Homo sapiens: one gene and its partner. The protein of the gene in region 2 interacts with the protein of the main gene of each other region in a pairwise test. Each region holds a gene or a part of one and is shown on either strand. Other genes may lie near its edges.

The links.
Region 1: the proteins of ANAPC4 (region 2) and KIF18A interact in binary tests that used the Homo sapiens proteins (3 or more experiments, as listed by UniProt).

Annotation. Positions count from the first base shown.
Region 1 is NC_000011.10:28,021,156-28,024,988, reverse strand, and holds part of KIF18A (kinesin-like protein KIF18A), read left to right. Parts: intron 1-1,138; coding exon 1,139-1,248; intron 1,249-3,706; coding exon 3,707-3,789; 3' UTR 3,790-3,833.
Region 2 is NC_000004.12:25,390,568-25,394,400, reverse strand, and holds part of ANAPC4 (anaphase-promoting complex subunit 4), read right to left. Parts: intron 3,491-3,833; coding exon 3,386-3,490; intron 2,064-3,385; coding exon 1,980-2,063; intron 597-1,979; coding exon 510-596; intron 92-509; coding exon 27-91; intron 1-26. UniProt on the Homo sapiens protein: Component of the anaphase promoting complex/cyclosome (APC/C), a cell cycle-regulated E3 ubiquitin ligase that controls progression through mitosis and the G1 phase of the cell cycle.

The DNA of each region.
Region 1 (3,833 bases), on a different chromosome or scaffold from region 2:
CTAATTTATAATTTAAACTTTATCATAGATATGTGTAGGAGAATACATAGTATATATCCGGTTTGATACTATCCTCGGTTGCAGGCATCCACTGGCGATCTTAGAAGATATCCCCCCCGTCGATAAGGGGGATTACTATATAGTATCTTTATTAGCCAGAATTTCCCTAAGCTTAGGTTGTTTGAATCAGCGTGGAAGGATGTTCTTTTTCCACCCAACCCCCCCCAATCCTACCTGTTAAAAATTGATCCTCTTTAGGACTAGGAAGGATTGCTGTTTTTCAGGACCCAGATCAAATTCATTGCATCCACAAAATTTCCATTATTCTTTCTTACTCTACACTCAAGAATCTATAGCTCCTTGTATTATGGAAACCTTGGCACTATATTTTTACTTTACCTTATATTATTTCATGTATTTATCTTATTTTTTTCTCATCTCCACTGTATGTCTATTCTATAAGTTTTTAGGACAGGGATTTTTGTGCCTTGTTTACTTGTATATCATGTAACACAAGGCCATAATAGGTGTTTACTAATATGGCAACTCAAATTGAGTAAGAAAGTTGAACCATCAGCAGTGTAAGACTGATTAAATTTTTGAAGCTAGAGCAAATGAAAACAGGTCATTCTTTTTATTTCAGTTTCTGTGATTGTAATAATTAGAGATTTTTATTGTTACCCTGCTTTCATTTTAAAACAAGGTTTTTCAAACAATCTCACTTGTTTATACCTTTCACATTAGGATTCTTGGTCCAAATTTGTAACATGAGCTTAGTTTTTTTTTTTTTTTTTTTTAACCTCTTGTGACTATGTGCTACTGATCTCTACATTTTGAATAATAGTGCTTACTTATCTGCCAGCAAAGCACCCTGGAATATTCTGCTACAGAATTGTAACATACACCTACAATCATAACATTCAATTTGAATAAAAATATAAAATATCCAATTTAAAATCACACACAGCTAAATTTCTCTGTGGGCCAAAAATGTATTTAGTACCTCCACTTCTGTGAGATTTCACAACTTAATATTTTTGTGTTTTATTTCTTTAATCATTGTCGCATGTACAATATGTATTAGAACTTTGAGGTATAAAAAAAATGCTTAACTAAATTAAAAACTTTTCCTCTCAAGTTCTACATCAAACAGTTCGTTAACTGCAGACGTAAATTCTGGATTTGCCAAACGTGTTCGACAAGATAATTCAAGTGAGAAGCACTTACAAGAAAACAAACCAACAATGGGTATGTCTCAGCTTTTAATTTGATATTTAATGGTATGACTCTGTAACACACATATAGTACTTTACGTTTTTTATTGTGTTTTCATAAGAATCTCCCTTTATTCATCACCTTTACTATGTGGTAGAACAAGTATGATTATCCACATATTATAGATAAGGAAACTTTAAAACACAAAAGCATTTACCCAAGATCACACAGATATTATATTGGTAGAGCCAAAACTCAAGAACCAGATCTTAAAACTCTACTTTCTACACCCTTTTAGTTATCCCTACTGTCTCATAATAATTGAAATAATTGGCTAAATGTATTACTTAATGTTACTAATTAAGTGTATTTTGCAGATAAACTATACCCACTTTAAATTTTTCTCTTAGCGTAATATTTTGAATAATTTGGCCTCTAACTCAATGTGTAACTACTACACAGATTCCAGTCTGTATCTAGTTACAATCATATTGTAACTCCCATTGGCAAGTTGGAAAAGATACTGATGGATCTTTCCCATCAGTATGAAAGATACTACATTCCATCAACCGCATATGGGAGTGACATGAGTTTATGGTAACAAAACCACTTCAGTTAAACTAGTGGTGTATCATGCCAGCCAGTTTTCAGGCCCCAACATCTAGACCTCTGTCTCTGATACTACAGTTCCTAAGACTTCATTCAGAAACTATTTATTCACTAGGCATTTACCATGTCCTGTGATGAATACAGAGAGCAGTAAGACACAGTTTGATTGTTCTCTATAGGAACTGATAATTATAGCAAATGCAATTTAAAGGTGTCTCATGATATAATTTTTCTAAGGATAACATGAAAGCTATTGTTAGTTTTTTTCTGTCGATGCCCTTTGATTAGAGTAATATAAAATTCCTCAGTAACTTTGTCAAACTATATTGGTAAATGCCTGCTTCCTGTAGTAGCCAGTGTTTACCTTAAGTTCAATGGAAATTGAAGCATCAGACAGCAAATTGAAACATCAGACAGTAAGGTAGTAAAGTACAAAATTTACCTTGATCATTTGGTTTGACATGTTGTATTTAATAATGCTTAAAAATGTGTATCTGTAGTTAGTTTAGGTGTGTACTGCCCCACTGATCTTCTTAAAAAGTTCTTCAAGAATCATAATTCTACAGCCAAATAATAAATTTATAAAAACTCTCAAATTGGCCGGGCGCCGTGGCTCACGCCTGTAATCCCAGCACTTTGGGAGGCTGAGGCGGGTGGATCACGAGGTCAGGAGATCGAGACCATCCTGGCTAACATGGTGAAACCCCGTCTCTACCAAAAAAATTTTAAAAAATTAGCCGGGCATGGTGGCAGGCGGCTGTAGTCCCAGCTACTCGGGAAGCTGAGGCAGGAGAATGGCGTGAACCTGGGAGGCGGAGCTTGCAGTGAGCCGAGATCGCACCACTGCACTCCAGCCTGGGCGACTGAGCAAAACTCCGTCTCAAAAAAAAAAAAAACTCAAATCATAGAACTTGGCTTTTTCTAATATGCTTATTATCTGAAGATACAAATTCATCAAATATTTCATGTATAAAGAGATGTGAGTAAAAATATCTACTATGGGGAAAAAAAAGTGGGAGATGATAATAAACCACAATGCTTGCCAAAGAGGTATTAGTTTGTAAGGAAAGATATTTTATATACATTATAATGTTCAAGTGAAAAATGTATTAAACCAGTTTTCTAACTAACAATGTACAAATAAAGAAACATAGGACCATCAGTAGGGAAAAAGGCAACTCCTGTTAACTTAGCAGTTAGAGAAATAACAGAGAGTGTTAAGGGAATATGTCCCTCTAAAACTAAAACCTAATATGGCCAACAAAGTGGATAAGCAATTAAACTAATCCTGAAAAAAGTCAATGGCACCCTGTTGTAACAACACTTTGTTGAGTAGAAAATGACGGTGAAAGCTAATGAAGAACCAGAAGAATGGGCATAAATAGAACATACTTGAGAGGTGGCAGTAAAAGAAAAAAGAGCTATAGGATTAAGATCAGCCCTTTAGGAAGTACTAGATGCAAATGATAATTTTAAAATTGGAAAAATATGGAAGTTTAAATCCCTGGGGAAATATAATCCAAGGAATGAGAAAAAATGGTGATACAACAAAGAAAATGAAGAAATGCTTGTAGAAATGGTCTTTTATTAGTCAGAAAGAAAGAAAATGAACATAGTATTTAATTCAGCGACTTCACCCGATGTCTGTGTATGTGCACGCACTCACTGAAACTTTAGTTTGCAATATGAATTTGAACAGCTTTTAAACCAAAGGTATTAATGTCTCTTTGTTGTTGTTATATTTTAAATTATGTTAACTAACAACTATGAATTTCAAGAGTAAATTTTTCTTTCTATGGTCATAATTTTTATAAGTTGAACGATGAAAACTTTTTGAATGATATTTATGCCATATTTATGCATCTTTTTATTTCTTCTCTAGAACATAAAAGAAACATCTGTAAAATAAATCCAAGCATGGTTAGAAAATTTGGAAGAAATATTTCAAAAGGAAATCTAAGATAAATCACTTCAAAACCAAGCAAAATGAAGTTGATCAAATCTGCTTT
Region 2 (3,833 bases):
AGGAGCACCTAATCTGAGTTTATTACCTTGCTTTCCCCCATAATAGCAAGTGCATGAACTCATCTTGCACTGATGTGGTTGTGTTCTTTTCCTGGAAAAAAGTGAAAAAAAAATTGTGATATATGTATTTCTTAAATTATAAGCATATTTATTCAAAATTATAGGAGCATGACTCCCTTTCCTTGCCTTAGACTTCCATCAAATCCATAAAGTGATCATCTGAACATCAGTGACTAGAAGATAGCCAATCAGCTGTTCTAACACCTGCCCTTATTGCCAAAGCCCCACCAGCTCCACTTCACAATCCTGTCCCCACTTAAGTTGTATCAATGGGAAAAGAGCCCTTTTGGCAAATCTGAGGAAGCAGTTTGAAGTCAGACGAAGCCATTTGAAAGAAATTATGATCTTAGCCTTTTATGAATCAAACTGATTTTTCTCATGTACCTCAAGGTAAAGACATACATCATGCATTCTTTAACTCTCTCCATGGGAAACTTCAGCTGCTTTACCTGCACAAACTTGGTGAGACGAGAATCCATCTGCATTAGTATTTCTTCCCATGCTTCACACATACATGTTAGTGACAAATTTATATACTATTAGCAAAAAAGAAAAATTGAAATGGTAAAAAATATTTAAACCAACTTGCTATCTAAATAATATGTGCTTATGATCAAGTGTCTCAAAGAAATCTAGAATTTACTTTCAATCACTGTTTTATTTTTATTATTTATTTATCGAGACAGAGTCTTGCTCTGTCGTCCAGGCTGGAGTGCAGTGACGCCATCTTGGCTCACTGCAACCTCTGCCTCCCAGGTTCAAGCGATTCTCCTGCCTCAGCCTCCCAAGTAGCTGGTATTATATGCGTGCGTCACCATGCCCAGCTAATTTTTGTATTTTTAGTAGAGACGGGGCTTTACCATGTTGGCCAGGCTGGTCTCGAACTCCAAGCCTCAAGTGATCCACCTGCCTCAGCCTCCCAAAGTGCTGGGATTATAGGTGTGCGCCACTGTGCCCAGCCTCAATCACTCTTTTAACTCAGTTAAGATGGAGAAAAAGACAACAGCTTGGTCATCACTTAACTACGAAACATTCCATTGATTCTTAGAATTTCATAATAAAACATTCTTAAATTTTTATCTGGTGAAACAAATATCTCCAAGCTTTTTATATAAGATATGTCTTATCTACACTAACTGTCAAAATACTGGTTTGGTCAATTATTCAATTTTAAAAAGATACTGATCTCTAGAAACCTTTAATATCAAATAAATTAATGACTGTGGTAGAATGAAAAACATGGCCACAATCTTTTGTAGCCCCTCCAGTCAGATGCAGAGTCCATTTCTTCAGCCCTTGAGTCTCGCTTTGACTAACGGAATGCAGCAGAAATAACACTGTTGACTCCAGGGCCTCAAAAGTCTTTGTACACTTCCACTTGCACCCTCGATGCCCCGTTACCACCACCATGTGGACAAGCCTGTGCTGGCTCGCTGGAGTATGAAGGATGTGGAGTAGAGACAAGGAATCACAGCCAAGGGACACATACCAGCTGGCATGACCAAGTCTAGTCAAGATCAGCTGAACCTTCTCCAGGTCACCCAAACATCTTGGCTAAGCTGAGCCTAAATCACCAACCTACAGAATTGGGAGGTAATTTGGGGTGGGTTTATTATGAACAAATGTAAACTCATGTGAAGACTGTTTTTCCCACAATACTTTATAATGTAAATGGTATTTTATTTATGGGAGTATTTTAAAAGATTTAAACTCTTTTGGAGGTGGAAAATAGGGTGCGGTGAAAGTAGGTTCTCAATTAAATGTCCTTTTCCTGCTTTAATGGACCTTATAAGATCATCTATCAGACTAGATACCTCTACTTCAGAAAGCTTTACAAAACAAAATTTTGAAGCTTTTTATTTACAGAACTTTAGAAGCCGATAATAAATATTCACATAAAACAAGCTCTAAATAAATACCTGTAACAGAGCTGAAATATGAGTAAACTTTCTGGCCATCCGAGTTACTTCAGGTAAGAAAGAGTACAACAGATTAGTTTCAAGCTGTAAAATCAAAAGAGTAAAGTGAGTCATCATCAGATGCACTTGCTGCAAAGTCTGTAATTTAGAGTGTGGGTCAAACTACGTATCAGAAAGACTATGTCAGAATTGTGCCCTCTTTGAGCAGAACGGTTTGGAAACAGCACATAGCCTTAGGATCTCCTAACCTACACATAACCATACACAAATCACTCTCTCTGGGTTATCAACCCCTCCTGTGTAGATAGAATAAATGTAATATAACCTATTTTGAAACAGTATTACAAAGAAATGTTTAAATCACAAATATATGTAAAAACTTAAAGGAAGTATAAGGAATTAAAGGCTACTGATAAATATTGGGAAAATATCTATCAATGGTATATGAATTGTATCTTAATAAATTTGTCATTAAAAATGATCTGTTACCAACTTCACAGTAGTAGTGAATCATTTTATTATAATCCAAATGCAATCCTGGTGATCATAGTTTCACATAACCTTAAGAAGATGAGCAAATATGAACAACCATTACCATAGTGAACAGTAAACCAAGAGTTCTCTGATGCTCTGAATACAAAGAGAATGTTGGAAGACATCACACACATTGCATCTTGCATCTTTTTTGTTCTACTTTTGTTTGAGAGTTCACACATACTTAAGTGGCTGGGATATTTAAGATGAAAATTTTCGATTTCTTGGCAAGGCTATGATCTAAATACTCTATGGGAGCCCAGTTAGCTTCCTTAATCTACAATGCAGACAGCACGCAATAAAGCATTTTCCCAATATTAAGTGATCATTTTACACAAGATGCAATGTGCTAGTTAAGAGCACAGATTATGCAGCCAGATTGTCTAGCATCACTTTCCCATCCTGTGACATCAAGCAAGTTCTGAAGTATTTGTGTGTCCATGTACTTACCTATAAAATGGGGATAATAACAGTATCTGCCTATTATGATGCTGTGAAGATTCAAATCAACTGTTCTGAAGCATTCAGCATATGGCACATATTAAACAATCAATAAATATTAACCTTTGTTATTATCAGGGACAGAGTCCTAAGCAAACACTTGGTACAAAGTCAAACTGGAATAGCAACAAATTAATATGGTCATTAATAGACCACCAAAACACTTTTTATGAAAACTGTATTGGAGCATGGGAAGAATAATATGGTATTCACTATAATAACACTCAGTATATTAGGATGTAGAAATTCCAAGTCGATTTTTTTGCATTATTTTAATGATCATTACAATACAGTGAGATGTGGATAAAAACCTATATAAAACCTGTTAAATACATATTTACTCTCTACCGTTATCAAGTTCCAATACTCACCTGAAAGTATGAAACTTCTGAAGCACCATTGGTAGAGACTTCTGTGACCACTGATAATGATTTCAAATCACTTGATAAACATAATGCAAGACAAGTACCAGCAATCTGTAAAAGAGTCAAACCCCTTAGTATATTTAGTATCACTGCTAGGTTGAAGCTGATTATCATGCAGAAAGCAAAAACTCAGAGCTTTAAAAAGCAGAAACAAATTCCCAGCTCCAGCCACACACATGTAGCAGATGAAGGTAGGTGTCTGCCTGCATGGACCTTTCTAGTTACAAGGCCACAAAAATAACCTGGTTCCCTCACCCCTACCCAAGTCTCAAATCAAGTGCTGCAGAACCAACATATTCCACAGAGCCTACAATATTTTCTACCCCTTTTGCGAGTGTAAGAGTCTGATGAAAAAGCTATGGAGAAGACTGAGACGTAGCAACTATAGTACAGT